Regions from separate parts of the Homo sapiens genome. Here region 2 is linked to region 1. The links come from fine-mapping of genetic effects on gene expression. A gene starts in region 1. The other region holds a variant in brackets. All regions are shown on one strand. Distances are from middle to middle. Region 1 holds the start of IL5RA (interleukin 5 receptor subunit alpha). Region 2 overlaps CNTN4 (contactin 4).

What was found.
Region 2: its variant is fine-mapped to the expression of IL5RA in whole blood (TOPMed, PIP 0.94).

What each region holds. Positions count from the first base shown.
Region 1 is chr3:3,105,968-3,122,148 of GRCh38, reverse strand. It overlaps IL5RA (interleukin 5 receptor subunit alpha), which reads left to right and starts at 11,775. Exons shown (of 12, transcript NM_175726.4): 1 at 11,775-12,204; 2 at 13,458-13,599. LOC124909339 (a long non-coding RNA gene) reads left to right here. Exons shown (of 2, transcript XR_007095786.1): 2 at 1-152. RefSeq lists an enhancer at 12,330-12,409 and a silencer at 12,490-12,609.
Region 2 is chr3:3,024,132-3,040,312 of GRCh38, reverse strand. CNTN4 (contactin 4) reads right to left here. Exons shown (of 25, transcript NM_175607.3): 15 at 14,036-14,211; 16 at 9,338-9,458; 17 at 5,523-5,681; 18 at 2,985-3,134; 19 at 1,310-1,380; 20 at 42-276. It overlaps CNTN4-AS1 (CNTN4 antisense RNA 1), which reads left to right. Exons shown (of 4, transcript NR_046554.1): 4 at 1-652. Among named protein-coding and RNA genes, the nearest start is that of CNTN4-AS1, 29 kb to the left of the region's middle. RefSeq lists enhancers at 1,657-1,766, 1,001-2,200, 9,548-9,717. The variant T/C (reference allele first, on the strand shown) is at 7,366.

The DNA.
Region 1 (16,181 bases):
GAAAAAATGATCAGTTCTTGCCAGGGGGCTCAAGATGGGATGAGGTATTTACTACGAAAGCGCATGAGAGAATTTTGAGGGGAGAGAAAGGTGATAGATTTGTTCTATGTTTTGATTATAGTGGTGATTAAATAACTCTGTATTTGCCATAATGCATAGAACAGTATTGTATTAGTCCATTCTCACACTGCTATAAAGAAATACTTGCGACTGGGTAATTTATAAAGAAAAGAGGTTTAAGGCCAGGTGCGGTGGCTCAAGCCTGTAATCCCAGCACTTTGGGAGGCCGAGGCGGGTGGATCACGAGGTCAGGAGATCGAGACCATCTTGGCTAACACGGTGAAACCCCGTCTCTACTAAAAATACAAAAAAATAGTCGGGTGTGGTGGCGGGCGCCTGTAATCGCAGCTGCTCGGGAGGCTGAGGCAGGAGAATGGGGTGAACCCGGGAGGCGGAGTTTGCAGTGAGCCGAGATCGCCGAGATCGCGCCACTGCACTCCAGCCTGGGTGACAGAGCAACACTCCGTCTCAAAAAAAAAAAAAAAAGAGGTTTAATTGGCTCATGGTTCGTTCGGTCGGCTCATGGTTGGGGACGCCTCAGGAAACTTGCAGACATGGTGGAAGGTGAAGGGGAAGTAGGCTCCTCTTACATGGCCAGAGTGGGAAAAAGGAGTGGTGGGGAGGTACTGCACACTTTTAAATTGCCAGATCTCACTGCAACTCACTATGAGAAGAACAGCACTGATGGGGAAATCCACCCCCATGATCCAGTCACTTCCCACCAGGCCCCACCTCCAATATTGGAGATTACAATTTGATGAGAGATTTGAATGGGGACACACACCCAAACCATACCAAGTACATTTAAAAGGTAAACTTTCCTGCTTATAAATTATACCTCAATAAGCCTCCCCCCAAAAGTAATTACATTTTTATATATTAGCAAAAAAAATTAAGAACATGAAAATTCAATTATTGAAGTATGTACCTATGAAAGCAGGACAGAACTTTGAGGTCATTAAACTAAAGGGTGAAAGAACTCTGGACAGAATGCCCAGTTCAACCCCTTAGGACATGGTGAAGACAACCAAAGCGGTCTCAAACTCCTCTCTCCCACACAAGACGTTTTCTATTATCTCTTAATATAGACCCATCCTAAAGGAAATAAAACTTTATCTGCAAAGGAACTGACATTTACTGCACAGAAATCCTACTGGAAATATTCTCTCTCTGTAGAACATACCCAAAAGTAAATACCATAGACAGGGAGTGCTGTTAGCATCTGGCAAGTTTATACCTTTCTGTGGAAACACCACAGTCATGAATATTACTCTTCAGTTAGAAGGCTACACATTATTAAATAAATTCAGGAGGCCAGGAGTGGTGGCTCAATTTGGGAGGCTGAGACATGCAGATCACTTGAGGCCAGGAGTTTGAGACCAGCCTGGCCAACTTGGTGAAACTCTGTTTCTACTAAAAAAAAGAATAATAATACAAAAACTATCTGGGCCTGATGGCACATGACTGAAATCCCAGCTACTCGGGAGGCTGAAGCAAGAGAGTCGCTCAAACGTGGGAGGTGGAGGTTGCAGTGAGCCAAGATCCCACCACTGCACTCCAGCCTGGGCAATAGAGTGAGACTCTGTCTCAAAAAAAAAAAAAAAAAATCAGAAAAGTAAGATAAGAACAGCTTAGAAGTATATATCAATATTTCTTAGATACACCAATGTTAGGTCTGAACACTGGTTCGAGTGTCCTTCAGTGCTTACTAGAGATGCCCTCAAGAGTTTAGCAATTGCCTCAAAGAGCTTCCATCTTTCTTCATAGTAAACCAGATCTTAGATCCGTTCTTTGTACATCTAGTAGCCAAAATGTGGCTCCCCAGTGTTCAATTGTCTCTTGGCTTATCTAAATTTTGACTATGTGTCTGTGACACTGATTCATTCTGCACACTAGAGAGAGAAGCAATGGTACACACAGAGAAGTTGTGAATGTAACATTACTTCCATTCATTTATGCATTCATTCATTCACCAGAGGTTTCAGTGCTCACAATTTGCCAGTGGCATGGGTAATACAGTAAGAATAAGGCTACCTACCAATGGTATTGTGTTTAGAATAGTGCCAGGCATTTTATTTTGATTAATTTGTTTAATCTTCACAAACATCCAATTAGGTACTGTATAGAAGAGGAAACTGAGGCATAGAGAGGTTTATTTGTCTAAGGTCCTACAGAGAGTAAGTGGCACAAGCAGAATTTGGAGCCAGATATTCTGCCTCAAAACCACCATTGAACACTGATAAGGCTGGAGAAGACGGCAGGGACTAGAGCATGCAGTGCTGGGTGCTTCTCGGGATGACATCTGGATTTAATTTTAATGGCAATAGCAAGATATTAAAGGTTTTTCAAAGCAGGGGTTTTCATAAACCTATCTGTGGTTTCCTGCCATCAGGCAGACTGCAGCATGAAAATGGGTTGGAGAGCCCAAGCAAGAGGCTGGGGCAGTTATGCCCAGGAGGGTGGGCCAGCACGTTGCCACAGTGGGGAAGAGAACTGAGTGAATGCTAGAGTCAAACTGGAAGGCGGTGAGGGTGGAGTGGAATGAGACATGAGGAAAGACCCCTGCATTCATTTCCTATGGCTGCTGTGACAAATTACCACAGACTTCAAGGCTTAAAACCACATTGGTGTATCATCTCACAGTCCTGGAGGTCAGAAGTCTAAAATGGGTCCACAGGGCTGCCTACCACAACCTCCGAGCCTGTGCTTTAGTAACTTAGTGGATGAAAAGATAACAGGACTATCAAGGAAAATGATGTCACAAAGAATTGATGGCTCGACTTAGCATTAACTGCATCAGCCTCAATGCTGAATACTCTTTCTATTCCCCCCAGCCCCACCCACCTTTCTGGGTTTTAGGCAGGTAGTTCAATTTCATTTATTCATTTAATTTTTTATTTTACTTTTTTTTTTTTTTAAGATGGAGTTTCACTCTGTCGCCCAGGCTGGAGTGCAGTGGTGCAATCTCAGCTCACTGCAAACTCTGCCTCCCGAGTTTAAGCGTTTCTCCTGCATCAGCCTCCAGAGTAGCTGGAATTACAGGTGCCCACCAACACGCCCCACTAATTTTTGTATTTTTAGTAGAGACGAGGTTTCACCATGTTGGCCAGGCTGGTCTGCAACTACTGACCTCAGGTGATCCGCCTGCCTCAGCCTCCCAAAGTGCTGGGATTACAGGCATGAGCCACAGGTAGTTCGATTTCAAATGAAAACCCACAGCCGAGTAGAGGTAGACCCATCAAATAGCAGGGTGAGACCTTACTGATGGAGTTCGCCACTGCCCACCAGCAATTACTCTAGGACTGTCCCCTCCACATCAGCCTTCCCTAACATATCACTGTTCCCAGTGCACTTATATTTTAAAATAGGACAGAGAAGGAAGAATAATGCTTTCCATAAAAATAGGAATTAGGCTGGGTGCAGTGGCTCACACCTGCAATCCCAGCACTTTGGGAGGCCAAAGTTGGAGGATCACTTGAGCTAAGGAATTAGAGACCAGCACCAGGAACATGGCCAGACCTTGTCTCTACTAAAAATAGATTTTTTTAAAAAAAGCAGCGAAGTGCGGTGGCACAAGCCTGTAGTCCCAGCTCCTTGGGAGGCTAAGGTGGGAGGGTCACTTGAGCCCAGGAGATTGAGGCCGCAGTGAGCCATGATTGTACTACTGCACTCCAGCCTCAGCAACCTAGCAAGATTCCAACTCAAAAATAAATAAAAAAGGACAGTGAAGGGAAAATAATGCTTTCCATAAAAATATGGGTTAGGCTGGGCACAGTGGCTCACACCTGTAATCCTAGCATTTAAGGAGGCTGAAGCAGGAGGATCATTTGAGCCCAGGAGTTTGAGACTAACCTGGGTAACATAGTGTAACTCTGTCTCTGCAAAAAACTTAAATTATAGCACTTTAGGCCTCCTGGGGAAGATATTTGAGGCAATATTTAGACAAGTCAGAAAAAACATAAATATGACCTAATTTTAATATTGTGCAATTTATTCACACCCCTCCCCACCCTCACTTTTCATTGTAAGTGACACTGAGTAATTTGTTTAAAAGAACAAGTTCTGTTTCAAGAATGTATTCTTTCTTTGAAACAACCAAAAGTACCTGTTTGGGGAAAAAGTCATTTGCTAGTTTTGTTCTCATAAAAGTTTAATAGAAGGCAACTAAAGTTTAAGATCTCCCAGAGGACAAATAAAGATATTTCTCAGCAAATGTAGAATCGCAATTTTCATTGGTGCTGGGGGATTTTACACACAAATGCAATTTTATTTTACTTTTAAAAGAGGTAAGTAAATAGACAAATCAATTTTAGCTGCTCTGAAATGTCATACCGGGTCATTAATTTTAAAAGATGAGACTTCAATAATAGTTAAAAGAACAAAGGCCCAAGGGTAAAGACTGAGAATAATCACCTTCAAAATTCTGAATTATCAGCAGCCTCAGATCAGAATCAAGAGGAGCCTAATTCAGTTTCCTTGTGATGTTCTCCATTGCATTTTTTACCTTCAAAATATAGGTTCAAATGGAATTCCCTTTTACAAAAACAGAAACCCTCTTTCCTTAAAGCACGAGGACCTCCTCTGTGTGCTGGATACTAGGATGAATTCTGGCAAAACCAAGCTCGATAAAATAAAGACCTATTGTCTAATCTACATTCAGATCGGAGGTATGAGACTTGCACCTGGCCATCTCTGTGGTGGAGACAGAGATATAAACATAATATTTGGTATGATATAAAATTTAAATGAGGCCAGGCATGGTGGCTCATGCCTGTAATCTCAGCACTTTGGGAGGCCAACGCGGGTTTATCACTTGAGCTTAGGAGTTCGAGACCAGCCTGGGCAATATGACGAAATCTTCTCTCTACAAAAAATACAAAAATTATCCTGGCATGGTGGTGTGCGCTTGTAGTCGTAACTACTTGGAGGGCTGAAGCAGGAGAATCGCTTGAGTGCAGGAGTTCGAACTGCAGTGAGTCATGATTGCACCGCTGCACTCCAGCCTGGGAGACAGAGTGAGACCCTCAAAAAAATTACATATTTTATATATATAACATATATATATAAATATATATATATAACATATATATATAAATATATATATATAACATATATATATATATAATGTTAAATAGACAAATACAAGCAGCAGTTTAATGCACACTTGAGGGAAAGACAAGAGAGAGAGTGATCTTCCCAAATAACATCACATTCAGACTTATTCTGAAATAATCAGGAGTTTCTCAAGAGGAACTCCACACTCACCACCATCAAATCAGACAGTCCAAGTTAAACAATTGTACTGTTTTGTGAAAATAATAATTATGACAATCATGGAATTAAGGTTTTGACATTCTAGGCAATGTGAATTTGGAGAGCATCACAAAGAGTCTGTGCTATGTAAATTCTCTAAGCCTCAGTATACTCATCTGTAAAAGAGGTTTATAGAGCTGTGATGTGATCGTGTGTATAAGGCAACTGACAGTCCCAGGAACATGGTAGCTTCTCTTTTGACTGAAATGGGACATTAATCTACATTAACAACATAAGTTTAGCCCAGGTGTGGTGGCTCATGCCTGTAATCCCAGCACTTTGGGAGGCCGAGGTGGGCAGACCACCTGAGGTCAGGAGTTCGAGAGCAGCCTTGCCAACATGGCGAAACCCCATCTGTACTAAAAAATACAAAAAAAAAAAATAGCCGGGCGTAGTGGCGCACACCTGTAGTCCTGGCTACTCAGGAGGCTGAGGCAGGAGAATAGCTTGAACTCAGAAGGCAGAAGTTGCAGTGAGCCTAGATCGTACCACTGCACTCCAGCCTGGGTGACAGAAAGAGACTCCATCTCAAAATAATAATAATAATAATAAGAAGAAGAAGTTTAATTGTGTAGTTTTTGCTATTGTTTTTACACATTCTGGTTGATTTCCTGTATCTGGTTTTCAGAGCAAAGAACTGGTCTCTGACTAAAGAACTGAAAAAAGGACTAAAGAACTGAAAAAAGCTTAAGCTACTGAAATTCTTTACTGAATAAAGATATGCTTTTAATTTTAGCTACATGGGATAACTCAACAGATTGATTTTACACTAGAATTTTTCTAACGATTACCCAGAATTCTGTTTCAATCCTTTGAGGGTATCTAATCCTGCTAGGGTATTTTTTAATGACAGTTTTATTGAGATATAACTTACATATCATAAAATTCACCTATTCAAAGCGTACAAGTCAATGGTTGTAATATATTCACAGAGTTGGAAACCATCAATACAATCAATTTAAAATATTTGTGTTATCCCAGAAGAAAATCTCATACCCATTAGCAGTAACTTCTTATTTTTCCCAAACTCCCTCCATCCCCCGGCAGCCCTAGGCAACCATGAATCTATTTTCTATCTCTATAGATTTGCTTATCCTGGACATTTCATATAAGTGGAATCATGCAGTGTGTGATCTTTTGTGACTGACTTCTTTTACTTAGCTTCATGTGTTCAAGGTTCATCCATGTTGTAGTATCAGTGCTTCTTTTGATGGCTGAATAATATTTCACGGCATGGATATACCACATATTCTTTATCCATTCATCAGTTGCTGGACATTTGGGCTGTTTTCACTCTTTGGCCATTATAACTAATTCTTCTGTGAATATTCACATATAAATTTTTATGTAGACACATGATTTTAACTCTCTTGGGTGGGTATTTGCCTAGGAATGCAATTACTCAGTCGTATGGGAACTCCACATTTAACCTTTTGACGAACTGCCAGGCTGTTTTCCAAATTGGCCACCTCACTTTACCTCCCCAGCAACAGTATGTGAGGGTTCCAGTGTTTCCACATCTTCATCAACAGTTGTTATTGTCCTTTTCATTTCAGCCATTGGAGTGGGTGTGAAGAGGTATCTCAGTGTGGTTTTCATTTGCATTTCCAATAGCTAATGATATGGAGCAGATGTTCCTAGGCACCTTTGCTGTTGGTACATCTTCTCTGGAGATATGTCTGTTCAAATTCTTTATCCCATGCTTAAACTGGGTTATTTTACTTTTTTCTTTCTATCTTTCTTTCGTTTTTTGAGAAAGGTCTTGCTCTGTCACCCAGACTGGAGTACAGTGGCACGAACACGACTCACCAGAGCCTCAAACTCCTGGGCTCAAGCTATCCTCCCACCTCAACCTCCCAAAGTGCTGGTATTACAGGCTAAAGTGGGTTATTTTTCTTTTTATTGTTTGGTTTTAAGAGTTTTTGACATATTCTAAATAAAAGTTCCTTGTCAGATATGTCTTTGCAAATATTTTTCCCATGCTGTGGCTTGTCTTTTCACTTCCTTGTATTTTATTTTATTTTATTTCAGACAGAGTCTTGCTCTGTTGACCAGGCTGGAGTGCAGTGGCACGATCTCAGCTCACTGCAACCTTCGCCTCCCGAGTTCAAGCCATTCTCCTGTCTCAGCCTTTGAGTAGCTGGGATTACAGGCACCTGCCACCACACCTGGCTAATTTTTGTGTTTTTTAGTAGAGACAGGGTTTCACCATGCTGGTCAGGCTGGTCTTAAACTCCTGACCTCAGGTGATCTGCCTACCTTGGCTTCCCAAAGTGCTGGGATTAGAGACGTGAGCCACTGCATCCGGTCTTTTTTCACTTTCTTCATGGTATCCTTTGAAGCACAAAAGCTTTTAATTTTGGTGAAATCCAGTTTATCTATTTTTTTCTTTTGTTGTGTCTGCTTTTGTATCTTATTGAAGAAACCATTGGGTAGGTGCGGCGGCTCATGCCTGTAATCCCAGCTCTTTGGGAGGCCAAGGTGGGTGGATCACCTGAGATCAGGAGTTCGAGACCAGCCTGGCCAACATGGCAAAACCCCATCTCTAGTAAAAATATAAAACTTAGCCGGGTGTGGTGGCACACGCCTGTAATCCCAACTTCTCGGGAGGCTGAGGCAGGAGAATCGCATGAATCCAGGAGGCAGGGGAGTTGGCAGTGAGCTGAGATCATACCACTGCACTCCAGCCTAGGCGACAGAGTAAGATTCTGTCTCAAAAAAAAAAAAAAAAAAAAAGAAAGAAACAAAATGAAGGTCATGAAGATTTATGCCTATGTTTTCTTCTAAGAATTTTATAGTTTTGCCTCTTACTTTTAGGTCTTTGATCCCATTGGAATTCATTTTTGTCTATGCTGCGAGGCATTCTTTTGCATGTGGATATGCACCACTTATTGAAAGGCTGATCTTTTCCCCGCTGAATTGTCTTGACACTCTTGTCAAAAATCAATTGACCCTAAATGCGAGAGTTTATTTTTGACTCTCAATTCTATTAAATTGATCTGTATGTCTCTAATATTTTTTAAAATAACTTTTTCTGCCTGCATTTGTACAGAATAAAACGTTTGTAAATATAGAAACACAGAATAAAAGTAAGAGAAACACTAACCCTGCCGTGGTAGAATGAACTGTTGGTCCCATTTCTTCACTCCCCACTAGGAGTTGTCCATGTCCACATCCTTATCATGGCCTTATCATGGTGGAATGTACTTTGGGCTTCGTCCATTTGACTCCGGGCTTGGCCATGCAATTTGCTCAGCCTCTTGAGATGTCAGGGAATGTGACATGAGCAGATGCTTGATGCGTGCTTGTGCAGTTGGTCCTGCTCTCTTGCACTTTTGCTGTCACCATAAAAAGATTATGCCCTGGGTAGCCACTGGTTCCAAATGAATGGCAGATACTTGGAACAAATCTGAACTCACTTTGTGATCTGGATCCCAGCCCAAGATTAAGCAGACCCCAGTCAAAACTCAGACACATGGGCTACAAATACATGCCTATCACAGTTTACCACTGAGGGTTCTGTGGTTGCTTGTTCTGTAGCAATAGCTGACTAATACACCTACCACTTAGAGATAACTATTCCTGTTAGTCTGATCTTCTGACCAAAAATAAGACTGTAAAAAAAAATTACATGTGTGTATACCCTCCTGTTGTTTTTACTTAACATTTTTTCATAATACCCTATGTTATTAAAAGTTCTTGATTGGCTCATACCTGTAATCCCAGCACTTTGGGAGGCCAAGGTGGGAGGATCACAAGCCAGGAGTTTGAGACCACCCTGGCCAACATGGTGAAACCCTCTCCCTACTAAAAATACAAAAATTATCTGGCATGGTGGCACATGCCTGCAATCCCAGCTACTCCGGGGGCTAAGGCACGAGAATCACTTGAACCCAGGAGGCAGAGACTGCAGTGAGCCGAGATCCTGCCACTGCACTCCAGCCTGGGTGACAGGGCACCACCCTGTCTCAAAAGAAAAAAAAAAGTTATTGATAAACATTCCTTTTGACATCCACATCACATATTTCAACCTTGAGCAGTTACATATTTCTCTTCACCATTCCTATAGTACTTTTACTATTTTACTATTGTAAAGGTACAATGAATTTTGCTCTCTTTTGTATAAATCTTGATCTACATTTTTCCATTATTTCCATGGAATCAAGTTCTAGAAGTTGATACCTTTAATAAGCTCCTTTAACCAAAGTTCATGGTAGAGCCACTGAACCATGATTTTCGTTTTATTACTATTCATATTTCTATTTGGCTAAACTCACATTGTTTTGCTTAAAGGATGCAGACACATTTAATTTCACTTTTTAAAAAAACGACTTTTGTGAATTCTTCCAGCATGTTCTATCATACTGTCTTTGGACGTTTACACTTTATTATAAAGAATTAAATTATTGCCATAAAAAACCAAACAGGCCTCGCTCAGTGGCTCACGTCTGTAATCCCAGCACTTTGGGAGGCCGAGGTGGGTGGATCACCTGTCAGGAGTTCAAGACCAGACTGACCAGCGTGGTGAAACCCCATCTCTACTAAAAATACAAAAAAATTAGCTGGGTGTGGTGGCGGGGGCCTGTAATCCCAGCTACTCAGGAGGCTGAGGCAGGAGAATCGGTTGAACCCGGGAGGTGGAGGTTGTGGTGAGCTGAGATCGCGCCATTGCACTCCAGCCTAGGCAACAAGACTGAAATTCCATCTCAAAACAAACAAACAACCCCCCCGCAACCCCCCGCCAGAAAAAAAAAAAGTCCCTGCCTCTCATTTTTTCGTTTGTGCTTATACAGAAACATAGAGACAGTGTTTCTGTATGAGCATGTGTTTGCTTTGTTTGTTTGTTTGTTTTTATTGGCGTAGTTAATTAAAGATCATATACCCAGGAAGGTGGTATGGAAGGAGCAGCCAGATCTAATTTTCTTTATACCCTTCACCGCGCCTAGCATAGTGCATAGGTGCATTCAATGAATATTTGAGTAAATGAATGTAAGAAATATACAGACCATTGGCTGAGTGTGGTGGCTCACACCTGTAATCCCAGAACTTTAAGAGGCCAAGGCGGGTGCATCACTTGAGGTCAGGAATTTGAGACAAGCCTGGCCAACATGGTGAAACCCCATCTCTACCAAAAATACAAAAAATTAGCCAGGCGTGGTGGCGGGTGCCTGTAATCCCAACTACTCGGGAGGCTGAGGCAAGAGAATCGCTTGAACCTGGGAGGCAGAGGTTGCAGTGAGCAGAGATTGCGCCACTGCACTCCAGCCTGGGCGACAGAGTGAGACTTCATCTCAAAAAATATACATATATATATACGGAGAGAGGCCATTAAAGCAGGCTTTTAAGCCAGAAATTACTGTCTTCCCAATGATTAATAAGTATTTTTAAGGTTTCATTAGTGACAAATATGTTACATGTATAAACAGATGGGCAGGACTTAAAAGAGTAGGCCAGATAGTTGATACTATATCTAAACTTTTCTGGGTGCCTCTTAGCAAATAAATGGATCTCTCTCTGTTCCTTGTTTTACTTCCCCTTTCCCCGAGGAAAATCACATTTTTCAGGTCTGACAACAATTTTCAACCTGATAACAATTGCTCCGGTTTCATTTTGGCAACTGCTAAAATGGTCACCTTGGGAACCCCAGGCACACACGCTGACTGTACTTGCACAGCTTCTACACTGAGCCTTTTGGAAATTGCCTCCAGGAAGCCTGTCTCTCATCTCACAAACAGAACCACTGATCCAACCTGGGCCACCATCTTTCTGCATCTGCTCTGTCTGAGACTCTCCCAGTCAGCTCCTAAGGAGACAGGGAATCCTGCATCACTCATCGCTTAGGCTAGACTGAAGGTCTCCTTCCAAAGGCAACTACTTACTACTCTCTGCCGTGGGTCATACAATAAGCACTACTCTTATCTATTCACACGCTAAGCTACTTTTTTAAAGCCAGCTTTGCTAGCTAGCCACCTCGAAATTCCCCAGAAGGAATCAAACAGAAATGGAACAAAGGACAGGAAAAGCCAAGGAGGTTTGCTGAAATTGAAGCATTCTGAAGACAGCTGGGTGGTAAAATGGATGTGACGTGAGGAAGGTGGTCTTGGGTGCACCCACAGACCAACACTGCCATTGTTACAATTTGTGTAGGATGATCTCAGGTGACAGACAGCAGCAATTTATCACACCCAGAAACGCATCCCCCACACATATTTACTTGAGGGTACCAGACCTGCTCACAAAGCAGAGAAGAGCTAAGGCGGTTCTCTAAGGGCAGAGAATTGCTGCTATTGCCTAGTGAGTGGGGAGAGGGTACTCCTCAGGCCTTACTTCCTATCAAATCATGTGTCAGTGTTGCCTAGGAGACAGAGGCACAGTAACTACTGTAGCCAAACAAGGCACATAAACAAAACAGAAATGCAACGCTTTAGAGTACCCACGGAAAACTTGTTTACCTTGTCACCATGAGTAAAAGTTAATTCCCACTCCTGAAGAGAGCAAACCAACTCTGAAAGAGAGTGAAAATGCAGACAAGACAGTTATCAGATAATGGCTATCTGGACGAGAGATTCTTTCGTTTGACAGCAGTTTGGTTGTTGGGAGTTCCAGTTCAGCTCCTGCACAGTTGCTCTGTACAAATCCTCCTCCATATTTGCTTAGAGAAAACGTGTTGCCATCCCATCATGAAGGAAGCTGCCTGAGAGTTTTTAACCATTACAGCCGTGATGATGAAAGAGTGAAGAACCGCCTCTAAGTTAAAAAGTGCACCCAGAGATAAGGTTCGTTCTCAATGCCCTGCCGCTGCTTCTCATCGCATGGCCACCGCATTTCTCAGTAAGTGGGAATCAAATGCTTCACTCACCACAGAGTAAGCAAATAAATATCTTTTTTCTATGACATGGGCTGTAACAATACCCTGTGCTCCACCTCCTAATAATTTCACTACACCCAGGGTGGGGAGGAGGGTTAGGAAAAGCAAGAAACAATGACTTCTAAATATATGACAAACTTGTAAACAACAAAAAGGGGAAACAAAACTCCTTATAATTCTATTATTATTAGCAGGGACAGAACTAATAATGGTCCCATTAAACTTGCATCATTAGGCAGGTCATGTTGATTCTGGGTATAACCTTCTATTCTTGTGTTTTGGCTCAGTAAGTGAGATGTGCAAATCCGTGGCAAGGTGAGTCATATGAAAACAACACCTATGGTTTTGTTAGTGCTTACATCAATATAAGACATCTGTTTTCCACCGCTCCAGATAATTATGCAATTAAAATGAGAACATATATTCTGCCAAGATTTCTTAGAAAATAAATGAGCTTCCAAAATAGGGTATAGGGTTTAATAAAATATCTCAGGAAGTTTCAGAGTTAAGCAAGAAATCTACAAATAAAGAAACAACAACAAAAAGTAGAGAGAGGCACTTTATCTAACTGAAGGAGGCGTTCTGCTTTTTCTTTCTGGTAGGGGTTCTTGGATTTCCAAGATTGTTTCATTGTATATAAAATGTACCCAAATTTGCTGAAATATGTCACTTGGTTTTGTGTTCACTAATGTATTTACCTAAAGCAAGGTAAGCATATTTCCATGTAGACAGAAAAAAGGATGAAATGGAACCAAAAAAAAGGGGGAAAAAGGAGAGACAGAGCGAGAATATTTTAATACCCTTGAGCCTAAAATTAATAAACACATGAAAAGTGATGGTGCTTTTATAGCCATGTGAATAATGTACTTAGTACTTGCTTTAATGAATTACCATACTGAACATTTTATTACCTGGCATGATTTCTATTTTAAGTGAATATGTCCTCTTTCATGGTTATCGAAAAAGGAATTTATGTAGCTATTTGTTAAAAGTTTGCATTTCAAAGCAAAATAAAGTTTTAGAAGTTAAATCACCTCATTTGTTTATATTATTTGAAACACCGCATGGGAAATTTTTAGGCAAAATACCAAAAGTGGGCCAGGCTTGTTACACACTCCCCAGCCTGCTGCTCTCCTGACCTAACTCATTCCTCTGTTAGGTTTCACCGCACATTGCACATTAGGGCTGTGCACTAATTTGCTTCTATTCCACACAGGGCCAGGCACATTGAGCATTGGTCCTGTGCCTGACGCTATGCTAGATGCTGGGGTTGCAGCCACGAGCATAGACACGACAGACACGGTCCTCGCCATCTTCTGTTGAGTACTGGTCGGAACAAGAGGATCGTCTGTAGACAGGTACGCCCAGGAGCATGGATGTGAGATGACAAATTGCACCATGTGCAATTGGCAGGAAATATTTTGCTACTGGGATATTTGTAGCAAACTCTTTCTTCTATTTTTCCAAATACTCAAGGTGGCAACACCATTTCCACTTGGACTGACAGAGAGTTTTATGTTTACAGCCACAACCTGAACTCATGAGTTCTATTTTAGGACTATTTCAGAAATTTAATCAAAAGTACAGTAGTAGTAAAAAAAAATTGCATGCATGATAAGTGGTCCTTATTATTCATTTATATATTTAGGAATGTGCAGTTTTTCATTGGGGGGTAATGCAATATACCTAGGTAAACATGTCTTTTGCAGTTTATACCTTGGTTTATTCTTCATCCCCCAAGAGATAACTTTTATTGCTGATTATACTGTACAGGATAAAAGAGAAAGTAAACTCTTCATATTTAAAAGCCTACCAGAGCATGAATCCTCTCAGTTGCTTTACAATTTCTGCCACTAAGGTTGAGTCTGGAATTAGGTGTTACCACAGTTGACTCAAAAAGGTTTTAAAAACAGGGGTGCCAGTATAACTTTGGTTATAAAACGAACGCCCCAGGCAGAAAAATAAGTTGGGAAAAAAAAGAGGGGAAAATATTTGTAAGTCTGAACTTCAGTAGAATTTGACCAGTTCTCAAGAACGCTGGGGAAATCCACTGCTAATTGTCAAAATTTTACCAAACTTCCTAGAAACACCTATAGGGAAGGAGACTGTGGTTGTTTTCTCCAAAATTTCAAAAAATGTAACACCTATCAGAAACTAGATTTTTAGAGAGCACTTGAGGAATTTTAGATTGACTCAATGAAATGTTATATGAGCAAGTAGATCATGAGATCATGATTTCTCTTAAAGATTGAGCATGTCTTCCTGGTGATAGATAAACAACCTATAGTTGCTTCATTCTGCTTAGTTTGCATCTTATTTTAACAATTTAATGGTTTTCTGCTAGATTTTAATTGGTAGCCATGAGAAGAATGAGTCGAACATATTGTCGATATATATGTTTAAGCTAATGAAGTCGCTCTATTCTTTTATAGTGAAATATGACCCAGTTGACATCTACATAACAGTGTATCTTTGGATTAAAGAAATGGCCTGAAGAGATTTGTTGTTGCTGTTGTTGTTGTTGTTTTAAGCAGGGACAAGAAGTATTAAGGGGCCACAGAGAGTGAGCAGAATTGTAGAAAACATGGTATCAAATCCTGAAGCTCTAGTACTATTCAACCTTATGTAAAATTTATCTGACTCACAAAAAAAAAAAAATGTCATTCTTTTTAATATTTAGACCCCTACTGAGTACCTTGTGCTGCCTATAGGACAACTGATTTTGTTCAAAAGCACCTCTTTTTAAATATGACAATGAGACATGAAAAAGCTGTCTATTTATTTATGGCCAAAAACTAATAATCAAAAATTTTTTGAATGATTAAATTTGAAAAACAATTCTATTTTTAGCAGCTATAAAATCAGAATACATGACAAATTCTAGGGGAGAGTGCTTGCTCATATAAAATATTCAATTATCTCTCCACTGAGATATTCAACAGTTTTATCATTTACTTCAACAATTTAATTGCAAAGGATAAATACATGTTTATTGCTTTTACAAGTACATTTATAACATAGTTTTACTTTGCCAGTCAGTGAAAGTCACAAAGAAATATTAATTTTGCAGTTTTTTCTGACCTAGAATTCCTATTATTGAAAATTAGTGCAAAATCAGAGCATATTTAATATTATTTCAGGAAATGCTGACATTTTAAGAAATCACCTTCATAACTTAAAGAGGAAGCTATCTTTGTTGCTGTTCTTAAGGAATTTTTATCTTTGCTTCTCAGGCTTAGTAGATTACTAGTGTTTTCCCTTAATTCATTAAAATTCTCACTTGTTGAAAATTTTAAAAAAATTATAGAGTACCTGCTTTTGTTGTCATCGTCATCGTTTCATTTTTTTTTTAATTTCTACATGGTGTGAAATCCTCAGAGAAAAATAAACAGGATTTTAAAATCAAAACTGGCATACTTCTGATTAACAGTACTTAAGCTTATTTGACAAGGAATTGAGTGATTTATATGCCGATCCTTTCCTGCTGTTTTGGCATTTTACCAATTTCATTAGTAAGTTCAGCAGTAATTGTAGCAACTTAAGTAATAATTTAAGAAGTAATAATGAAGTTAAGAGTGTTCTGTGCTATTTCCTGGAGGTATTCATTTAGCCCAGGTCTCTCCTGTGGTTCTACTGGAATTATATTTGGAAAATACCAAGCCACTTAAATAAATGTTTTAAATGAAATTATAAATCATTGTAATTAGTACCATAAAGTTGACAGAGCATAGGTTTTGCCATTGGAAGATCAGAGATTGGGTCTAGGCTCCATTACTTAACAGCTGTTTGATCTTTGGCAGATTATTTCAGCTTTCAGACTCCTTTCCTTCATGGGTAGGAATAACGTCCATGGAAGGGATTTCCATCATGTATAACAGCCACATGTGTCTGGTACCAAATCTCTGGGGGGAGCACGTGGTAAGAGAGTAGGAAGAACTCC
Region 2 (16,181 bases), 82 kb after region 1:
GAAATATTAACAGTCAATGATCTAGGCAGCATAAACGATACCTTCTTCTGCAGAATACACCACCGTGGTGGGACTGAAAGGGCCTTCTCCTTTGTTGTTGAAGACACCTACTTTAACCTCAAAGGGAGAGAAGGGGTGCACGCTCTCATTCCTGAACACGTATCTAGAGGCATCAGCTGAGGCCAGCACTGTCAGCATCCAGATCATTTTACCGTAGGGCCGGAAGGCCACCACATAACCAAAGCCTCGACCATTCTGTAATTCCTCAGGGACCGTCTGGGAAAGAAGGAAGGTGGTCTTCAGAAATCACAGTAGTTTCACTCAAATGCAAAAATCGTTTTTGTTTCCCTTGTAACATTCTTGTCTACATCCTTCTCCACCCATCTTATTTGGCGTTTTGTTAACAGTCTTTTAAATTTAGGGCTTGCAGTCAGTCTATCTTAAACAGTTATGATGTACTGGACAGGGTTGAAAACGTAATGAGGATCTGCAGTCCAGAGCTTGCTCTTTGATGGGGCAGACCCAGCTCTGAAATGGTTGGAAATGATTGTAAAAAAAAAAACACTGGACATCGGTCTCCTGAAAAACCACATTTCCAACACGTATCCTCTAATACTAATCTTCTTCCATTGCCAAATAGACAAAAGATCTCACTGAAGGAAGAAAAACCATCTTGGCTGAAGATCCTCCCTCTCAGAGGGAAGAGTTCAGCTGGAGGGATGAGTGATTTCTTTCACTGCTGTGCTTTGGGTAAATGAGAGATTTTAATTTCTGGGGCTGTTTAGAATCTTTCAAAAACATGAAGAACCCTTTCTAAAGCTCCCACCTCTTCTCTCAAAGCCAATTTTTAATAAATTGGTGACTAACTTTCCTCCAGGTTGTTTTAAAAAATACCTCCTAAAAGAGGGCCCCTTCTAGAAGCAAAGCCAATTGCCAGGAAATTGTGCTGGTGCACTGAATCTATTGCTGGCAGACGTTTTAAATCAATTGGCCATGCAGCAATTCAGGAAGAAAAGAAAAACTAGTTTTCTCTGAAACAGCCTTCTTTATTTTTTTTTGTAACGTGTGTTGTCTTCCCTTCATAATTGTTTTTACTGTGATGGATTGAATTAAAACTTGCCTCAACAATGGATGGGCAAGTGCCGTCCTTCCTGCTAGCCATTAGCTACGTGAGAGGGAGTGTCTGAACCCAAATGAATTTTCACTGTTAAAAACAGAGGAGGAAACTTCCCAGCTATGTCTAACATGGAGGAAAATAATAAAATAGCTTCGATGCGTGTACGTTCCTTTTATTCTGTGATTCATTTACCTCCCAGGTTATAACCAGTTCAGATTTGCTGCCTCCGCCACCACTGACATTCGCTGGTGTGACTTCGGGGACTGCACAAGGAGACAAAAAACAAGTTATGTCAGGCGGCAAAGGCGAATGAGGGCCAGGAAGGTTGCCTGGCAGAGGTGACTCACTTTCAGTGAGTACTCTGAGGCACGCCCCTTTGTCTCTGGAGATCAGCAACAGCATTGTCAAGGGGCCCACGGCGACCGCTCGAGGAAGTGAAATGTACCAAGGAGACTGCTATTAATTACCTGTTTCCCATTCAACAAGGCACACGTGTTATCTGACACGTCTGACCAATTGTTCAGCTCCATCCCTAGAGGCCGAGGGGTTCCCGAAGGGAGGAAAGGACTGAAGTCTGGTCCTAATGTTTGGTTATGCGTTTATGAGCCACGTGGAGATACACAAAGGGAAGAGTACAAGCTCTGCCCAGGCAGAGCTTACAAGCTGGTTGGAGTGGAGGAGCGCCTGCACCAGTTAGAGCAAGGTCGACAACCAGGGTAAGGAACAGTCAGCATGGAGAAGCGGGGGGCGTTCCGGAGTAGCGCCCTGCTCAGAGCTGGGGTGGGCGAATGGCTTCTGGGAGGAAGAGTTTTGATCTGAGTGTTGAAGGAAGTGGCAGACAGAAGTTGACCCCCGGCTCACTGAGCTTAACCTCTTTGATCACCAGTTTTCTCTATAAAAGAGAGGAAATTATGCGAGCTTCCACCTCAGGATTGCTGAGGGGAATTAATTCAATTATGGTTTTGGAAGGGGAAAAGAAAGCAGGGGACTAGCTATATTGTCATCACGTAACTGAAAGGCTCCGGGCCACATTTAAAAAGGTCTCACTGGGGTATGTGGCTGGTGACTGGGTATGTCTCCTTGGTTAAAGCCAATCAAATAGATCTAGATGAGTTTTTGCTTTTCTGAGAGTAGGGTCAGAACTCCTATTTGTGTAGGGACCTTATTATTCCTTCAACACACTGGCCTCTCTACAGGCGGGAACTCTATAAAAGACGGCACATGTAGGCCTCTTGCTTTACACCAGCTAAGTAAAAGTACGGCTGACCCTGATGAACTTGTTCTTCTCTCCCCGTGCTCATTCAAGCTGCATATGCAGAGGGCCATACTGAATTGCTGACTGGTCTTGTTCGAATGAGCACGATGTTCTGAATCTTCGTTTCTGGGAATGGTTTATACCCTAAGAAAGATAATCTAAGTGAACATTTCTGAAGAAATTATTTTTTATTTCTATTCTAAACAGGATTACCCCATGGTGGCTGTGTCCAGAGCAGTCACAAATTATTCTTTGCCATTAGTTACTTATGTGAGATAATTTTATTTGAAATGTGGGATTTTTTTTTGAAATTCTGTTAGAATCTTGGTGACAAATGAACCAATGAAGAAAGGGCTGGCTTTTGAGAGGACTAAGCACCGTGTGTCTCTTGCTGTACAAGTGGACCTAATGAAGAAAACAACTCTTGATTGAAACCCGTTGCGTGTTCAGCTGGGCTTCTCCTGGCCTGATTTCTATCATTATAAACATTTAAAGGGAAGGGTGAGCTAACACAGAGCCGCATGAGCGCTGAAGAGCAGCAAGAATTCAAACGCTTTTCCTAAGGAACAGCAGCTGGCAGAACAGATGATCTGAATCTCGGGTGCTACTCACGAGCTTCTTCTGTTCTCCGTTTCTCTGAGGGGCGGCTGGGCTCCCCAATCCCAATCACGTTGGCTGCAACTGTGCGGAATTCATATTCAACCCAAGGGTTCAAACCCACCACGGTCGCTGTGAATGTCTTCCCATCAATGAGTTCTGGGACTGAAAGACAACAAAAGGTGGGGGCTGTTTCATAGGTTCTCAGAAAACAAATGCAGAGATTACGTTAGGAAGATAGGAACATCCATCCATCCTCATCATTATTGTATTCAGGGCAGTGTAGGTGTTCTGATATTAGCTGCATCAACAGTTGTTTCAGTGAGGTAATCTCAGAACTATCTCTGTATGTTAAACTAACACACTCTAATCAGATACCAGCAGATGACATCATAAAAGACACACAGTCCACAAGACCCCAAACTACCTGACTCAATCATTACTATCACCCCTTCACATGTGTTTCCGCATTTATTGTATAGTGCCAGACACACTATTTCAACTATCCTCTGAGAAAGGTAAAAGTATTATATTCTTTTTTTCTTTTCTTTTTTTTTTTCTTTTTTTGAGACAGGGTCTCTCTCTCTCTCTCTCTGATGCCCAGGGTAGAGTGCAGTGGCACAATCTCGGCTCACTGCAACCTCCACCTCCCAGACTCATGCAATTCTTGTGCCTCAGCCTCCTGAGTAGCAGGGACTACAGGTGCATGCCACTATGCCTGTCTATTTTTTTTTTGTATTTTTAGTAGAGACGGGATTTCGCCTCATTTCCCAGACTGCTCTCAAACTCCTGGGCTCAAGCGATCCACCCGCCTTGGCCTATCAAAGTGCTGGGATGACAGTTGTGAGCCACTGCGCCTGGCCTATATTCATTCTTAAACAATTCTTATTGTGCCCATTTAACAGAAGAGGAAAATGAAGATGTATAGAGATCAGCTGATTAGCAGTCAGGTCTAGAATTCATCTCCTAACTTCTATATTTTTCTCATATTTCCTTCTTAAAGCACACCTGTGACTCAGTGATTACAGAAGGAAACACAGAAACCCATTTCTAAGGATTAGTAAACTAAAGTGAAAAAAACAAATGGGTTAAAATCAACAAGATTTATATGAATTGCTCAACACTGGGCATATTCTCCTTCAAAACATCAAGGCCATATAGCCTACTTTTGCTGTCTAGAGGAGTGTGTATCTTTGTTTGTAATAACTACTTGTTCATCCAATTTATCCTTAAATGAAATCTAAATAAGAAAATGAGTCAATTTGGAGGTACTGACAGAGTGGGGTTGGTATAAGAATTCTTTTACATGCAAAGAGAAATAACTGTGAAACTTTTAAAAAATAGGAAGTGCTGTATACATGTAATAAAGGGAAACAGGATGGAAGTGTTGCTGCTAACAATGTTTTTTTTTTTTTTAAGAATTTGTAAAATTGGTTAAAAAGAAATCTCATGTCTTTTTATCCCCAAATTTATCCATCTAAAAAAATGGGGCTGGACACAGTGGCTCACGCCTGAAATCCCAGCAATTTGGGAGGCTGATGGAGAATTGCTTGAGCGCAGGAGTTTGAGACCAGCCTAAGCAACATAGCAAGACCTGTCTCTACAAAAAATTTTAGAGAATTAGCTGGGTGTGGGGGCCTGCGCCTGTGGTCTCAGCTACTCAACAGGCTGAGGTGGGAAGATTGCTTGAGCCCAGGAGGTCGAGGCTGCAGTGTGCTGTGATTGTACCACTGCACTCCAGCCTGGGTGACAGAGTGAGACCCTGTCTCAAAAAACACAGCAGCAAGTGAAGAGGCTCCCTATAATCCTCTGTTATTGGTTTTTGAGAGCACTGTGTAAACTTTATGAAGTCTGTGACTATTAAGTGACTATAGTCAGGCAGAATCCGCTGCTTTCCAAAGTGAACCACAGTGCTACACAGATGATTTTAGGTAATACAGATTGATGCATTTTATTTTTATAACTAATATATTTTTAATGTGTGTTACGGAAAATACATATACAACCAGCACAACAGACTTTTTTTTTTTTTTTTTTTGAGACGGAGTCTCACTGTCACCCAGGCTGGAGTTCAGTGGTGTGATCTTGGCTCACTGCAACCTCTACCTCCTGGGCTCAAGCAATCCTCCCACCTCAGCCTCCTGAGTTGCTAGGACTGCAGGCACGCACCACCATGCCAGGCTAATTTTTGTATATTTTGTAGAGAGGGGGTTTTGCCATGTTGCCCAGGCTGGTCTGGAACTCCTGGGCTCACGCGATCCATCCAACTCTACCTCCCACAGTGCTGGGATTGCAGGCGTGAGCCACCAAATCTGGCCTGGACATTACCATTTCACAGATACTATTGCTTAGGATGAGTTTAAAAAAACCCAACTGTGATTTGATATAAAGAAAAATATTAATGATAGTACAGTTGGCCGAGGTTTAGGAAACACTGCCATAATATATCATTTGTAGTAGTGTCTGAATGAGAACTTAGACGTTCCTTGCCACAGTGCTGTGTCCAGTATGCTGAGTTCCCAATGTCTCTGAGCCAAGCATCCAATATGGTACCTGTACTGACTGCTTGCCAGCCCACGGAGAATGGAGTCCTGGCTTGAATGACATACATGGTGATGGGGCTGTGGTTGTCAGGCCCGGGTCTCCAGGAGAGCTGAGCAGTGGTATCTGTGATTTCGTCTATTGTCACAGCCTCTGGGGGACCTGGAGGACCTGGGAAAGAGCAAGACCCCCAGAATTGGAGCAGTGTATTCAAACACCCAAGTAAAGGAGCCACATACTTGAATGGGGCATTGACCCATTCATTTATCTACCCATTCACAGATTCATCACTTGTCAAATCCTTTTTGAACTCCTACTACGTGCTTGGAACTTTCCTGGGCTTGGAAACCACAGAGGTGAATGAAACACAGCCCCTTCCTTCTAGGGGCCCACAGTTTAATATGAAAAACTAATAGGTAAACAAATAATTACAACTGAATACTTAATGTTAATAGAGAGTATTGGGGTACCATAAGAGCCCACATTCATTAATTCATTATTTATTTATAGGTTCCTAATATGGGTCAGACAGTGTTATTTGAGGATACGGTAGTGAGAAAAGATAGATATTGCTCCTGATTTCATAAAGAGTATAGTCTGCTGGAAATGGTTATTTCTACCACTGAGAATATAGATTTAAGCACAAATGGCTTTAAAACTTTGAAGGTTACAGTGTTGCTCTGCACATTCTGCTGCACTGTAATTACTAGCACTCTCTTCACATCCAACCCTGCTTCCCACGTGAGCACACACTTGCGTGCAAGGGAACTGCTGTGAAAATGGCCGGTGCGCAAGAGTCAAGGCGCTCCCTTCTTCAAAGCAATTTCAAAATTAGGCTAGATACTAAAGACCCTCATCTGTAGTTTCTGCAACTCATACCCGTATTTTTCTACTTCTCTTCCTGATGTTCGTTGTTTCTGTCCATGTACTTAAACCATGGAAAGGGGAGGAAATCAGATTTAAATGAAGGCTTGAAACTAATAAAGAAATAGAGGGATGGAAAGCAGCTGGCAGGTAAAGACAAAATATCAACAGAGCCAGAGCAAAGACCCGCAGCTATCCCACTTTCCAACATGAAAATCTCTTACCAGGCAGTTAAATGCATTTTTAACAAGGTACAATTGACCACCTCAGGAGGGAAGGTGATGGTGAGGGGACATAATGACAAACCTCATGCCCATTAGACGGGCATAAGGAGATGTTCCTAGGAAGGATTTGCTAATCCCCAGTCTAGCAATCAAATGTACTACCCAAATACTATCAGGCCATGTCACAGGGACAGGGAAAAAAGAAACCTCTCACAGAGCAGTGCAAAATTAACAGCAATTTCCTGAAGTTAGCCTTTGTTCTAGGATTCACTCCTTCACCGTTTACGTGATGCCCTAAATTCCCTTTCCTTTTTTAAAAATCACTTTTATAGACCCACAGGTGAGACTAAATTTATCTTCTCCCTCCCACTCCTGAATGAAATGTCTGGAAATCTGTATGCTGGAACTGATTAATTTTCCATGGTGACATTTCAGCATGTCAGTCTAATGTCACCTAGATAGAGCTGATGTAACCTTTGGTCTTGGGACCCCTTTTAACCAGATAAAGTCTAGAAGACAATATAATTTTTTTCACTAGTTTTCTCATCCTAGCATTCCCCACCATTTTTTTTAATGGATGCTGCACTGATGTCCTTTAAAATCTAAGTACCACAAATAGAAAAGTGTTTCCCTCTGAACTCTTCAAAGAATTAAATCGATAGGAAATATCTGAGTCCATTGTTGGCCTCTCTATAGGAAGAAAATGAAGGGCTGGTATGAGTTTGGACACTGGAGAGAAGATGGTAGTTTCCTGGATTTGTTTGTTC[T/C]TTTTTTTATCTTCCTGCCACCCTCTCCTACCGATGCATAGCTACGACCTTACAGAATGTTTACCAACTTTGTTTTAGGGAAGTGGACTCCCTCTTTCAAAATGAAAAATGTACAAATGTTTGTCCTCTGAACAAAATGATAACACACTCAGGGGCATGTAGAAGATTTTGTTTCAGGCAATGGCAAAGGGAAGATTAGTTTGATTCTGGGGTCTGCTTCTCCCTCAGGAAGGGTGGCCTTTCTGGCTGCCATTACAGTGCTATAGGTTAAATAGAACAGGCCTCAGAAAATCAAAGAATCTGGAGCCAAGACTCAAAGCTGCTATACGTTTCAAATATGAAAATGTCTTTCAGGGTGGTGAAATACATTCCTGCCTCCCCCTCTGTAATGTGCAAGAAAAGCTGCAAGGGCAGAGCAGAAGGAGATAAAATGAAAGATTATGGTTTTAAATGGCACATTAATTTATTGGCCTTATTAACTGATTAGACTAGATTTTCTTTTAGACTGCGTTTGCAAATTCCTCCTGGTATTTAATGTTATTTTCTGTGAAATGAAGTATACAATATCATTTAAGAACTTCAAGTATTGCTGATTTAAATATTTATTAGTCTAATTTATTGGTGTTTTAACTGCTGATCTGAACATTATCCTAATTAAATAGAGGATAAATTTTCAGCAACAGAATTCTTTTGTTCCCAAGGGGAGGGCAGACCAGCCTGGTGTATTTTCAAATGGAAATAAACACATTTCTATAAGTTATTCTGTGGGCAGATCTACCTCGGTTGAAAGTTTTTTCTCATTTCCAGCCCTTGTCTGCACTGTTGCTGAAAGTTTTTTTAAAGGCAATTGAAAGGGGAACAAAGCAGACACATTGGAATTGCTATTTCTCTTGAACCCTCTCTTCACAATCAGTTTAAGTTGGTAACTCCCACACATTTCCCCCCTTACATTATGCCTAGAGGATACAGCAACACTCTTTATGGCTTCCAATAATACCTTGTTCTCTGTGCATGCAGATTAACCCTGCCTCCAACGCTCATACCCTAAATTTTTATTTTCTTGCGTTCGAAGTTTTGCCATGCGCTCTGCCAGCCGGCCAAAGATGCCTGAACACCAACAGTCAGGGATTCTGATGAAGGAGATTCTAGCTAAGATATTATTTTGATGTCTGGATTGGCCTCTATTTTAATGCTATAGAAAACCCCTGAGCATGCATAGGTTGGATTCTGGTATGTACACTGGTTAGTGAAGATTTTAATTTTCATTTAAAAATATTTCTTAAAAGTCCATTTACAGTTCCTTTGCCAACCGGTTTGGTGAGGCTTGGAATGTACTCAGTTGGTGTTGCTCAGCCGGGGGGGTCATAGCTCTTAGGTCCAAATTAGGTCATGCTGATAATATTCAAGAGAATCTCAAAAATGTTAGTATTTACATCAACTCTCAGCTCATTTACTACATCCCAGGCAGTCAGGAAGTGTCCTCTCCCAAAACCCTATTTTAGGAACCGAACAGCACTGTGAAGTTTAGGGAAAAAAGGAAACTCGGATAAACCTGATGATGACTTTACTTAAGCTGCTGTTATACCAGTGGCCTAGGATACTAATTCAGTTTGGCCCAGATGAAACATAAAAAGGGACAGTTTAATCCCTCTTTAAACTATCTGCTTTTGTTCACCTAAATTTGTTCTAGAAGGTCATATCAACTCCAACAGCCGTAATCGGGTACTCGATTTACTCAATTATCCTTCTAGTGTAAAGTTACTGGATGTGTTCGGTGCATTTTCTGACAAGCCGCACTGAGGAACTGTATATGAACCAGAAACTTCTGTGGACTGTTAGCCACTGTTTACAATGTTCAGCTTCTGCCTGACTTTTTCCCATAATTCTAAACCACTGAGGTTTCTGGAACTCTGCGCTACAGTAGATATCATGAAAATATTTCAAGAACAACAATAACAACAAAATCCAGTACCTCTTACAATCAGGTCTGCAGCAGCAGATAGCCTGTCCACACTTGTTTGGACCATGCAGACATATTTCCCAGCATGCTTCAGTTGGATGTTTCGGATCATCAAATCACCAGCTGAATCCTGCTGATAAAGTAGGGGAAAGTGGCTGCAATTACTTTTTAATGAGCTCTAAATATCATTATCACATGAAGGACACGGTGACTAATGGATTTATTTTACACTGGCTGATGAAAGCATTAGTGATGCAAACCATGGCCTGTTAAAAATATGTGAGCCTGCCTGAGAGATGGGAACACCGACGTTTTCAGAACACATCTTCGACAAGACCTCAGGTGTCTGGCTTCTCTGAGTCTCTGGAGCAGTTTGGCACCCATGTCGGAAGGACGTAAGTTACATGCTACATAAGTCCTACGTACTACGGTGGCTCTCGATCTAGTTTTGTGAGTTTCTTCAGAAATGCCCTCAGCCTATGGCCTTGGTTGGCGTTCGGATACTTTAGAACTCTGTATTTGGAAAACGGAAGCAAGCCCACATTTGGAAGTATCTGCATTTTATTGCTCAACCCTTTCTTAGAGCCAGCATTGTTATTGCTCCCAGGTTGGAATGAAAGGATTAGGAAGACCAGATTCTCCAAGGAAATCTCGCATCACCTAGTGTGGAACAGTGCTCATTTGGTTTCCAAATGCCAAATGCATGTTTGATTAGCAGAAGAATGGGACTAATTACATCCTGGTTTGGATGTCTATGCGCCCCAGAAATATTTCTCCAGCATTCGCCAGCACAGTACTTTTAATAAATGTGAGGAGATGATTCCACAGGCTATCACAAAGGCAGCACTTTACCTGAAGAACACTGCTACACCTTGGAGTTTGGTTCATAGCCCTGTTAATCCAAAGTTTGGAGAATAGCTGCTTGATGAAGAGACCACCCTAGAGGCCAGATTTGAAAAAGTACACTTCATTCTAAACCCGTAATGGATGACAAGATAATTTAGGGTATATTGGCCCTCCTTCATTTTCCCATTCCAAACTATACAACAGGAAATTGACACAGACTCTTGTGTTGCTATTTCTCCAATGACAATAGTAATGGATGATGTTTAATGGTATTTACTATATGACAGGCAGCTTCCAAGTACTTTACCTATATTAAACTCACTAAATACTCACATGTCCTCTGAGGCAGGTATTCTTGTTATCCTTATTTTACAGATGAGGAAATTCCAGCACAAAGAGGTTAGGAGTCTTGCCTAAAGTCACGTAGCTAGAAAATGGCAGAGCCAGGATTTGAACCCATATAGTCCCTGTTCTTAACAGTAACACTAGACTAGCATCCGGAAAGACCATATCCTCATTCTATTTCAAAATTAATATGTATTTGGTTATCTCCATCGTTTCAGTACAGAGTGTCACATTCACAGGATAATGGAAGAGATAGAATTGCCAATTAGAAATACGATTAGAAGAGATGCCAAAGCATGGAGTGAAGGAAGAGCTACAGTTTTGGTGCTTAGTTGTCTTGGGCTGATTCCTGCTGTGTGATTTCATCTAAATCTCTTAATCTCTCTTGGCCTTGATTTACTGACTTTCAAAAGACCTTTATTGACCTTCATGCTAGGTTGTGAAAATCAAATGAGATTATCTGTGTTATGTGAAAATCTTCTGAAACCTTGAAGCGTAGATTAACTCTAAACTGGTATTACTGACAGCCATGATCCATTTTTTTGTGAAACAGACATGTCCAAGATGTTAAATCTAATTCAGGAAAAGCTATGGTATTTTAACCCAAAACGTCTTTTGTTTGTAACACTTGGCTTCTCATCCAGATGCCACTGTTTACGGATCAAGTCTTATAATTGCTCAATAAAATGGGAAAATAATTGTTAACCTATTTGACAAGATTTCTGTGAGGATTAAGGAGCTATTACAGTCATCCTTTGGTAGACACAGGGGATTGGACTCAGGACTCAGGACCGTAGTACACTAAAATCCACACATACTCAAGTCCTGCAGTCAGCCCTCTGGAACCCGAGTATATGACAAGTCAGTCTTCCATATATGTGGGTTATTTCACATCCCACGAATATTGTATTTGCAATCTGAGTGTGGTAGAAAAAAAATCCACATATAAGTAGACCCATACAGCTCAAACCTGTGTTGTTCAAGGGTCAAGTGTATATAAGAAAGTACCCGATAAATGATTAGGCACTTTGCAAGTATCAGGAATTATCACTATTATCATCATCATTATTAAGATTATTGATACTTTACCTAAGAAATTTCACATATGGGGACTTCGAATACAGGTTTAAATAAAAAATATGCCCCAGGGGATGCGTGCAGGGAAGGTGGGAAGCCACATTGGCCTTAGGGAAATGCCTATACCATCTATCTAATTCACTTTATTCATGAAGGGCTTAAATGTCAAAGAAACTTGCAGCCTGGATATTTCAGAGCACAGCAACCTATTAATAGAAAATTTTGATTTTGCGATTCAGAAGTACTGTAGTTATTTACACATTTTGACTGGATTTGTGTTTTTAAAGTAAAACTGAAACAAAGAAAAAAATAGAGTGAGGAGTGAGGTAAGAGTCTCATCAAAGCAGACCACAATAACTTTCTCTTTCCCTTTGAAGTCACCCAGACCCAACTATTAACTAAGATCTACATTTTTTATGTTCCTACCAAAGAAAACAACAGCATCTGCTTATTTTCCACCACCGCAGTCTGTTGTGTTCCTGACAGAATACTCGGTGGGGATGGGGTGTATCAGAGGACAATGAAATAATAACTTTTATAAAACCTCAATAGGTTAACTCTATACCAAGCATCATTTCCACCATGCTGACCCAGGAAGTCGAAGCTGAAATAGGCTTGACTTCAAAATTGCGCTTGCTTATCTCTTCTATTGTCAAGTCCTGACTCCACAGACATTAATGATCCTAGTGGCTAGTACACTTAGATCTCACATGTGGTTGTGCTGTCCTTAATTTTCTATGTATTTCTCAGCAGAAGTTGATTGGTGTTAGCACTAGTTTAACAGGGGAGATAGACATTTTCCATATGAAAGATGAATGTGAGCAGCTCTACGGACAGCTGTCTTTACAAAAGGTAGTCATCAGTGTTTGACTTCATTAGGTGTCCCTGTTTCTGCCTTAGCCCTGGCACCATTCTGGCATAAAGGCTACATGTGTCTGAATGGTAGGACGTCCACTTCGATTGGTCGGGCATCTGTTTTCATTGGTTGGTGCTTGCGCCATTCTGAGATTTAGCATTTTTAATATCTCTCCTGCCCAAGAAATTGGTTTTAATGTGAGAACATTCTGCTTAATTTATGAAGAATGTTCTCGATTTACACTTTCCTGTTATTACAATCAATGTTACCCTTCCTTCAATTAATACCACCATTAAAGTTTATCAAGTACTTCTTTTGTGGTAGACATTGGGCTATGTACTTTCCTAGACCTCAGGATATTCAATATCTCCAATGTCTTTGTGAAGTAGTTAATATTTCTTTCACTTAGCCAAAGTTATTAAGCTGAACCATGTGAAAGAGGTCCAGAATGGTTTACGCTGGCAATTTCATCCAGCCTTTCTCAGTCAGGGTCCCAAGAGATAATCCCTAGTGAACCCAGGCATCCACTGATGTAACGAATTAACTTCTTTCCTGTGCCATCTAAAGTTGTACCAATCAGATACCACTCTTGGCATAGAACTGAGACAACAGTCATTGAAATTGTTTTGGGCATTCTGTGACTCAACTGCAAAAACCCTGTTTGATAAAGGTAGTAAGACTGTGATGAACAGGGCTAGTACTGTAGTTGGGTGGAAAATATGCTCTCACTATATCACATGGATGACTTTAGGCCACTTATTCTCAACGTAAAGGGGGTGGACAGATTTTTATAGCAGCCTAGGAAGTGGGGAGAGCTTTTCAAGTCAGGGCCCCATTTTTGTATTCCGCTATGTTTTGGCTGGACTCCATCATAAAAATGGCAGCCGGAGTCCATCTTTATTGTCAATGGGATCACAGAGGTGCGTTAGAGCAGAAAAAAATTTTTTGACAATGATTGTGATTGATAGGAATTGTTCCCAGATTTAACCTCTTCTTGTTATGTGTTCAATGATAATATACCGTTATGGAAAGGAAGGCATTTTGAAAATCCAATCATTTTGAATTCAAATTACCTGGAGATAGTAAATAACCCCATCAGACTTTCAAATTCAAGAAAGAAAACCCTAAATTCACAATGACGTGCCTTCTACAAGGTCAAAGGGAGTTTAATTAGCAGCCTAAAAACAGAAGGAAACTATCCTTAAGCTATTTTCTTGGTCAGATTCTAGGATATATGATATGATATGTGACACAGAGTTTGGGATTTGAAGTTTTAAGCTGAGTTCCACAATTCAGTAGCTATGAGGCCAAGGCAAGTCATCCAATGCCTGTGAGCCTTAGTTTCTAATCCATACACAGGAATGAATAATTAACCTGTAGGATTGGTGCCAGTTAGGGAGCAGTCCTGCCATATAGAGTTGTTCAATGAGTGATGCCACATTTATTGTGCAAAAAGGAGCAGGAATTAACCAAGAGTTTCTTGCCATAAGATTACTTGAACAAAATTCTAAAATAGTAACTTTAAATATATTGTTAAGTTGGTCTAAACAAGTTAGTTTGAGTCAGTTTTTGCTATTAATACTTACCCCTCCAACTCTTTCAAAGTGGTCCCCATCTCTGTCAAAGTCTATCAGGTGTCCATTAAATGACCAAGTAAACACGATGTCTAGCGAGTGATCATGCGTTACCTGGCACGGTAAAACAATACTCTCTCCAACAGTGACATCCATACTGGAAGGGGGTACCATTACCCTTGTTGGATCTGGAGAGTTAAAACAAAACAAACAATAACAACAACAAAGTCTGTGAGCTTGTGTGGAAATACAATGTAGACTCCAAGAGCAGGATGAAATACTAAGTAATTTTGCTTTATTTTTTCTGAGGCTGTGACCAGCAAACCTCAGTCATCTGGGAAGCTCAGACTCAGGCCAGGAGGTCATTTTTAATATGAAAAGATGAAAACACTCATTATGTGAACCTTCTCAGAGCAACAGAACTCAGCCAGGGAGCATGGAGGTGAGATCTCTAAAGATGCTCGTGGAAGGGCTTACTTTCTGGCAGCCTGCTCTGAATTGCCTCTTTGAAAAGGTTTTCGTCTCTCTCCAGTTTCACTAGAAAGCTACATTTCAGCTGAGTGCAAACAGGAAAAATCCATGTTGATTTGAAGTTTGTTAGGCTCTTTTTTTCTATTGTAAAAGTAATAAATGTTTTAGCACAGGTAATTTAGGAAATTCAGGAAAATTAAAAGAAGGAATAGAAAAACAAATCCTACCCAGATAAAACATCTATTTTCATGGTGGTATAATTTCCCCCAGTCTTTTTGGTTCACAGTTTTTCAGTTGTTTTGTTTTACACCATTATAAAAATGAGACAAATACGATTTTCCTTTTTCTCCTCAATATTGTATAGGCATGTTTATTCCTTTGTCAACATAATTTTATAATCTGCTTTAAGCTTACAGTTTTAACCATTTTGAAACTAGTTGGCATTTTAGCAAATTTTATTAGACATTTTTCTAATATTTATAATTAGAAATAATAAATAATGCTGTAATGAACATCACTGACAAAATGATACAGGTATATTACTTTTTAAAAATAAGGACCATCAATTCGCTTTAAAATTCACCCTTTACATTATAGTTTAAACTGGGAATAGAATGGGCTTGCTTAGCTGAGACAGTTTATGAACTCCAAAACTACATTCACACCCATAGTGCCTTATTTTTCTGCAACATGATTTCATAAATGGTGTCAGAGAGTACACTAGTGAGAAGCAGTTTGAATTCAATGTAAAGGCCGCATACATGCCTAAAGAATAAAATTCTGAATTAGGCCATATTCCAGAAATTTCTACATACTAAACCAAACCGAGCCAATCAAACAATTACAAAGAAGACAAACCAAAACCAAACCAAATAATAAAAGAACACTGACTAATCCTCTCCCATAGTCGCGGGATTGCATTTCAGGCTGTGAGGTACATAAATATTTATTCAGGGAACCTCTGGGATTAAAATATCCGCTGGGAATTTTGTAATTATATCTGACAGGAGAATTTTTGTGAGTCTTACTTGCTGATAACCCATGCTAAAATTTCCTCTTTAAAGAGAGTATTTAAAACATTTTTTCTATCCTTTTATCCAACTACAGAAAGAAAATCTCTCAGTTACAAAAGGGAAATCTCTGTTCTAAATAGGTTATAATCTAGTAGTGGGATATACTTTTGTTGTTTTCTAAAAATAGGAAAAGATCATGATAAGTAGATTAATGTGCTTTTAGTCACTGTTAAATGAGTGATGTCCATGAAATGAGAAGTGAACAACAGGTACTGCCAGCAAAGAGGTAATGGGATAGAAAACCCCTGATTTGAAAGACCGAGGCTTTTGAGGACTACATAATAAAAATCCGCTATATTGATTCACTTACCATCAGGAATAGATAGTGATGAAGTTGTTTTTTTTTTTTTTTTTTTTTTTTAATGAGGAAAAGAGGTAAGTACAAATCTTACTCTAAGCAAACATCAAGGAATAGCCCCATTTTGACTTAACATGTCATTTGACGTTTTTAAATTTACATTTTCCTCAAGAAAAAATGAAGACTGAAACAGATCCCAGGCTAAAATGATATACCTCTATGGGTTTTATTTGATAAAGATGTTGCCTAGTTCTACTTTAAACAGCTGCCCACTGATTCTGCAATTTAGATTTTCATTTTAATTCATTTATTTCTT